Homo sapiens: one gene and its partner. The protein of the gene in region 2 purifies or fractionates together with the protein of the main gene of each other region. This does not show direct contact. Each region holds a gene or a part of one and is shown on either strand. Other genes may lie near its edges.

Region 1 (3,661 bases), on a different chromosome or scaffold from region 2:
TGGGAGGCCGAGGTGGGTGGGTCACCCGGGGTCAGGAGTTTGAGACCAGCCTGGCCAATATGGTGAAACCCCATCTTTACTAAAAATACAAAAATTAGCCAGGTGTGCTGGCATGTTCCTGTAATCTCAGCTACTCAGGAGGCTGAGGCAGGCGAATCACTTGAACCCAGGAGGCGGAAGTTGCAGTGACCTGAGATCGTGCCACTGCACTCCAGCCAGGGTGACAGACGGAGACTCTGTCTCAAAAAAAAAAAAAAGGAGGAATCTTTTGAAAAATAGAAATCCCCCCTCATAATTTTAATCCCACCATAATAGGTTTAACATATATCTCACTGGACATTTTTCTATATACATAGGATTGATATAGGATTATAATTTCCTTTATAAAACTGTGATCATGCTACATATAAATAGTTCTGCAACTGCATTTTACCCACAATGCTACATCCTGACCATACTAAAGGACAAATTATGCATAACTGCTTTGTCTTTGTACACTTTATGCCAGAGCGCAAGGACTTCCTTCATCTGACTTGTGCCCAGCCACACAGTAACGGGCACGGCTGGTAGGGCTGAGTCAGCTCCATGCTGACAGTGAGTCAATCCCCCAGGCGCAGTATGGCTGCAGGCAGTGTGGGAGACCCCATCTGTCTCCACCAACCCTGGGTAAGGTCAGCCGAGTTTGCAGTAGGTGGATGACCTTCCTAGACCTGAGATGGGGCTATTTAAAGGAACGTGACACCGAGCCAAAAATGTGGAGGCTGCAGAGCCAGCTTCCACAGAGAGGACCAGATCGGCCTTCCCTGGGATCTGCTTCCTCGGGCAAAGCAAACCTTGCAGTCACTGCCACTTGGCTGCTGACTGATATTATATTTTGCATTAGGAAATATACTTTTCATCAACATAACCAACTGTGACAGCAACTATACTGACATCTGTATAGCACTTCATACAATATTGTCTATAATATGAATACAACATCATTATATAATATATACAGGAATATCATAATATATAAATTATATCTGTTTATAATATTAGATATAATATAAACGAAATGTGTGTGTGTGTGTGTGTGTATAATTTTTTTTTTTTTTTTTTTTGAGACAGGGTCATTCTTCGTCGCCCAGGCTGGAGTGTGGTGGCGTGACCTTGGCTCACTGCAACCTTTGTCTCCTGGGCTTAAGTGATCCTCCCACCTCAGCCTCTCAAGTAGCTGGGACTACAGGTACATGCCACCATACTTGACTAATTTTTTCTATTTTTTTTTTTGTAGAGACGGGGTCTTGCCATGTTGCCCAGGCTGGTCTCAACCTCCTGGGCTCAAGTGATCCACCCACCTCAGCCTCCCAAAGGGCTGGGATTACAGGCCCATGTCCGACCTCTTTTTCTCTATATATATATTTGTGCAAAATATATAATTTTTTTTTAAAGAAATAGGTCTTGTTCTGTTGCCCAGGCTAGAGTGCAGTGGTGCATTCATAACTCATTGCAACCTGAACTCCTGGGCTCAAGAGATCCTTTTGCCTCAGTCTACTGAGTAAGTAGCTGGGACTAAAGGTGTGCACCCCCACACCTGGCTAATATTATGATTAAAATGTCATACATTTACATAATATTAAATATGTATTTATAGATAATAACAATATATACTATAATATTATACAATATTGTTATAATTCCCACTGAATTCTCAGCAGTGACTGGGGGTCAGACGTCTTCCCACCATGTGAGTGTCCCCTCCACTGGAACAGCTCAGGCTGGTACTGGATTTCCCATTGTCAAATTTTTCAAGACAGGAGCCTGTCAGTGACATGATACCAGCAGATTAAATCAACCACTCACCTCCACAGCAAATGATAGCAGCCACAAAAAGGGAGATATCACTGTCATCCAGTTCCAGTGCATTGAACTTCATGGCAAAATCAAACTTGGGTTCCATGATATCACAGAACGGTTTCCTTAGGCTTTTTAGGAATTCACGAGTTATAAACCCATTTCCATACGCTACCAGCATCCCGTCTTTGTTCATCACAGAAGACAGCATGGCGAATATGGCCTCATAAACTCCGTATTTTAGCAATGTCACTTGATCGTTCAGGTCCAAGTTTGCGAAGCCTGGGATGGCCTTGGCGAATTCCGTGAGCTCCGTGACGGTCTCCACTGACGTGCACTGGCAGCAGTGAAAGATGCGGACCTCCGCCTCCTTGTTCTGGATGCCATTGGCCACCAGCTTGGCCACCAGCGTCTTCTCAGCCATACACAGTGTCTCCATATCATGTATGACAAAAGGCTACAAAGGAGGACACCAAGGTAAGTCAGGTGATGTGGGATGCGCTATGCTCCCAGCTATCAGCTCACTAATGAGCAGCTCCTGCGTCCAAATCACCAAGCTCAGTGCCTCAGAGGACTCAAGATACCCGCGGAACATAGTCCTTACTCAACTTCAAAATCGGTTGGGGAAAATAAGACATTAATAGAGAACAAACAGTATAAATCAGTAAAATAATAATAGTCATCGCCTGACATTGGGTGGATTTCATCGCTAAGAAACTGAAGTACTGGGCTGGGCATGGTGGCTCACGCCTGTAATCCCAGAACTTTGGGAGGCTGAGGTGGGTGGTTTACCTGAGGTCAAGAGTTCGAGACCAGCCTGGCCAGCATGGTGAAACCCCGTCTCTACTAAAAATACAAAAAAATTAGCTGGGTGTGGTGGCGGGCGCCTGTAGTCCCAGCTACTCGGGAGGCTGAGGCAGGAGAATGGCGTGAACCCAGGAGGCAGAGCTTGCAGTGAGCCGACATTGCGCCACTGCACTCCAGCCTGGGTGACAGAGCGAGACTCCGTCTCAAAAAAAAAAAAAAAATTAGCCAGGCATAGTGTGTGCCTGTAACCCCAGCTACTCGGGAGGCTGAGGCAGGAGAATCGCTTGAACCTGGGAGGTGGACGTTGCAGTGAGCCAAGATCGTGCCACTGCACTCCAGTCTCCAGTCTGGGCGACAGAGCGAGAGTAAGACTCCGTCTCAAAAAAAAAAGAAACAAGAAACTGAAGTACTGATTTTGTCAAAACAAAACTAACGAGGACATTAGCAAAGCACCTTTAATATTCTTAAATATTCTCTGAACTAATGACTATTGCAAGAGGCTTAATTACGATCATTCTTAATTTTACCAGTATATGCACTTTAGGGGTGAACACCATTATTTAACGCTGCTCAATGAATACATTTGGCATGTAAATACATACAACTCAGAAAGGTGGCATCTATGTAGAAATCGGCAAACAAGCGTTGTGAAACTCTTTAGGGATAAAGTGGAAAAGCCTCGGAATGCCCTTGTTTCTCTCAGTGCAGGAAACTGAAACCTTCACTCGGTGCTCCATATTCTGGAGCAAGTGCCAACTCCCCACAGCCGTGCCTTGTGTGCTCCCATGCCATCTGCATGTAAACCCAGTGGCCTGCCATTTCCTGAAGATCTCGTGGTGGAAGAGGTGGCTGGCCATATTATTTGAAGCCAACATGCTCAGAAGGGATTACATGTGTGGGAGAGCCGGGGAAAATGAGCACAAACACTGCTGTTGGCTGAAATTTACATCTGCGGGTAGAGCAGGAAAGTGACAACATCTGAGAGATCTCTCTGATTATAATGTGGTCCACAGCTCAT
Region 2 (3,661 bases):
ACCCTTGAAATAAAAGCTAATATTACTACCTTTTTTTTATATAATATTAAATCTTTGAGAAATTCCAAACATTTGATGCTGGTACTTTAATATTAAATCAATTCAGAGAGTATTTGCATCAGGTAGAAAAAGGTGTATCTCCTATTTTATAAGTAGAAGAGTTTTATCTTTGATTTAAAAATTGTAAATATTTCTTAAGTATGTGAAGTAATGGATATGTTAATTAGCATGTTAATCATTCCATAATATACACATAACATATATCAAAACATCACATTGTATTTCGTAAGTACAATTATTATTTGTAAATTAAAAATAAAAATTTTAAAATTGTGAGTAAGTGTAGATCATGACAGATAAGAAAGAACTCAGGAAAAAGGCCATATATCCTTCAAGATGGGGCTTTGATCTATGTTATTACATGCTCAGAGGAAAAGGAAAGAACAATGATGTAATAGAATGGGAATGAAAAAGATTCAGAGAATGTAATTACAAACATCTCATAAATTTTGACCAGTGAACAGCATCTATTAGCGTGTCCAAGAGACTTACAAAGCGAGAGGAGTTGTCATTCCTCACGGTCTTGGCGTTGCCAAAGGCCTCCAGTAGGGGGTTGGCACTGATGATTTGATCTTCCAGAGTCCCCTGCAAAGGCAAGAGCAGTCCTTGCATCTGGGGCTTGGGAATTTCCTACCTGAGAGTCCCGACAGAGTCTGGATTCTGACTGTGACAATCAGACTCACCTGTATTTTGCCAGAAGTAATTTCTTCCTTCTTCTTCTCACCAGTAACTGCAATTGTTGCAAAGTACTGGATGACACGCTTGGTGTTCACAGTCTTCCCTGCACCAGATTCTCCACTGTCAAATCAAAACTCAATCAGATGTGGTCTCAAACCTAGCAGCTATCACAGCCATGTAAAGAAAGCATAAAATCTACTTACGTGATCAGGATTGACTGATTCTCTCGGTCTACAAAAGAAATTATAGACATTTAATACTGTTTTCTTACATATTTGTAAATGATAAGTAAAGTAAAATGGAATGAACTTAGTATTATTCAGTCTGGACTTTGCAACCTTTAGGGCTTGGCAGGCTTTAGACCTACCACTTTCTCCCTCCCCAACTTTAGCACACATCCACCCATTTAAACAGAACACCACTACTTTTATTGGTTTTATATTCAAATCTTCCAAGAAATATTTCCTTCGAGGAAAAAAATTCTAAGATGAAGGAAAATGTTTGAATGCCACTCTATAAGTGATGACCACGTGGCTGTGTATTCCTGAAGCACCAGACTTTTTCTTTTTAATACTCTATCACTAAATAAACACCAAAAGTAGACTTGGCTCTTTGGTTAGGTTTAGTTGATGATTTAAGTTAGGGACATATATATTGTGGGTGCAAGGCGTAATGAAGAATGAGCATTAGAGATATTTTTAATGTGTGAAAAGGAGTAAGTACAGTAAAGGTGATAGTTTTAGAAATACGGCTTTGGTCATATTTTTAGGAAAAGGTAAAATTTTGTTTTGATGTTTTACTGTCTCTGAAGAGGAATTCTCTAAGCCCCTTCTCAAGGTGCCACAAGTAGTTTAGATTGGTCTAGCCAAGACAATATTGTAGGAAGCAGATTCAACATCTAACTGTTTTAATACCAAATACACCTTAAATCTGGAGCCTGTTCAGGTTGGTTCTGGGCAAAGGGCGATAGCATTGTGCCGTCCTTCATATAGAGAGACTGTTTAATCTGTCACAATTTAGGATGCTGAGGCTGAAACTACAGAGACAAGTTTTACTCTTCCATTTTTTGGCTCATAGTAACGGAGACACAGTTTGTATGTGTGATTGTGCGTGCATGAGTGTGTGTGTGTGTGTGTATATATACATACACAGAAATATTTGTATTTTTGCTCATATTTATTTGAGTTTCTGAGTCATTCAAAAGTATACTAACTAACCATGGCCAGCCTCTGTTGAACTTTTCAAAATTTAAGAGATCATTAGCAATTATGTAATATTACGCATTACAAATCAGCCTTTCTCCCCTTCCTGGACCTTCTCCTTCATAAATACACCAGCCTCAACTAAAAGGGACGATCTCAAGGAATGTGTTGAGATTGCCTCGAGTCTCTTTCTCCTATGGTTCTGCTCTAAAGGTTTACGCACTTGCAAAGCATTCGGCTCACTCACCAGTCAGCATGAACTGATAGGCGTTGTCAGAGATGGAGAAGATGTGGGGCGGGGCCTCCTGGCGCTTTTTGCCTCGGTAGGCTGTCACCACCTCGGGCTTATACACAGGCAGCCACTTGTAGGGGTTGACAGTGACACAGAAGAGACCTGAATAGGTCTATGAGAAGGAAAAAGAATAAGTACCCAAAGACCTTTCCTGTTATTTGTGAAATTAACTTATTAATTGAATGTTTTTTTGAGACAGGGTCTTGCTCTGTCACCCAGGCTGGAGTGCAGTGGTGCTACCTCAGCTCACTGCAGCCCCAACCTCCCGGGCTCAAGCAATCCTCCCACCTCACCCTTCCAAGTAGCTGGTACTACAGGCATGCATCACCATGCCCAGCTAATTTTGTACGTGCTTTTTGTAGAGCTAAAGTCTCACTTTGTTGCCCAGGCTGGTCTGGAAATTAATTGAATTTTAACAAAAAGGAGCACTTTAAGTGAGTACTCTTATTTCTTCAAGGCATCAGCTTGAAAACTAGTTGGCAAGTTCAACAATGTGATAGCAGAATCCTGAGGGAAGTGACTACAATTCAGCTTTCTTATTGCTCTCCTCAGGGCTTTTCACAGTGATTTTTACATAGCAGAAGAAGAAGTACATGTTATTAAACACATGTGCTATGAAACTTTTATTGTTTTATGGAAATGGTTTATATTTTCTTTGCAGCATTAAGATAATTCAAATTTATGAGAACATAAATTTGGACATAAGCTAAGTGGCCAACAGTAAGGGAATGGTTAGGTGAACTATGGTAAATCTTCTAAGACAATTTGATGCAGGCATTTAAAAAAGTAAACATGAAAGTATACAGCAACACTCAGGAAATATTTACAAAACGTTTTTAAGTTATAAGGAAACAGGACACGAAATGATATATATATATATATATATATATATATATATACATCATGATTACAATAGGGGGATTTAAAAAATCTTTGACAATTGGTTCAAGACAAGCACCAACTAGTTAAACTGGATGCTGACCATCAACTCTAGGTACACTTGTATAGGTGTTGCCTAGCTAAATAACAGCACTGGCTAAACTATGCAAAAATATGAATATAGTATAATAAATTTGATTTAAAAATATTTACTGCATGTTTATTATGTGCAGACCTTTACCAGACAGTATAAATGAGACCAGATAAATGAGATGATGTCCCTTGAGGAATCCCCAGTCTATGTAGGAGACAGTCATGTAAATGAATGATCAAGGAGAAACATGGTTAGTGTTAAGGCAGGGACAGAAAGGAAAGGACAGAACATCTCACTGCTTGGGGAAGTGGGAGAGGTTTCATCGAGGAGGTGACATTCCAGATAGAAGGGACCAGAACACACAGATACAAATTGCTGTTATTTCAGGGGATTGAAAATGAGTGAAATTTGTTTTTAAAAAAAAAAAAAATGTAGGCCAGGCATGATGGCTTATGC

What was found. The genes of interacting proteins can lie anywhere in the genome.
Region 1: the proteins of MYH2 (region 2) and PPARA purify together in Homo sapiens (co-immunoprecipitation; one large-scale study listed by IntAct). This does not show direct contact.

Annotation. Positions count from the first base shown.
Region 1 is NC_000022.11:46,230,424-46,234,084, reverse strand, and holds part of PPARA (peroxisome proliferator-activated receptor alpha), read right to left. Parts: intron 2,294-3,661; coding exon 1,846-2,293; intron 1-1,845. UniProt on the Homo sapiens protein: Ligand-activated transcription factor. Key regulator of lipid metabolism. Activated by the endogenous ligand 1-palmitoyl-2-oleoyl-sn-glycerol-3-phosphocholine (16:0/18:1-GPC). Activated by oleylethanolamide, a naturally occurring lipid that regulates satiety.
Region 2 is NC_000017.11:10,543,159-10,546,819, forward strand, and holds part of MYH2 (myosin-2), read right to left. Parts: intron 2,345-3,661; coding exon 2,188-2,344; intron 970-2,187; coding exon 942-969; intron 859-941; coding exon 744-858; intron 646-743; coding exon 553-645; intron 4-552; coding exon 1-3. UniProt on the Homo sapiens protein: Myosins are actin-based motor molecules with ATPase activity essential for muscle contraction.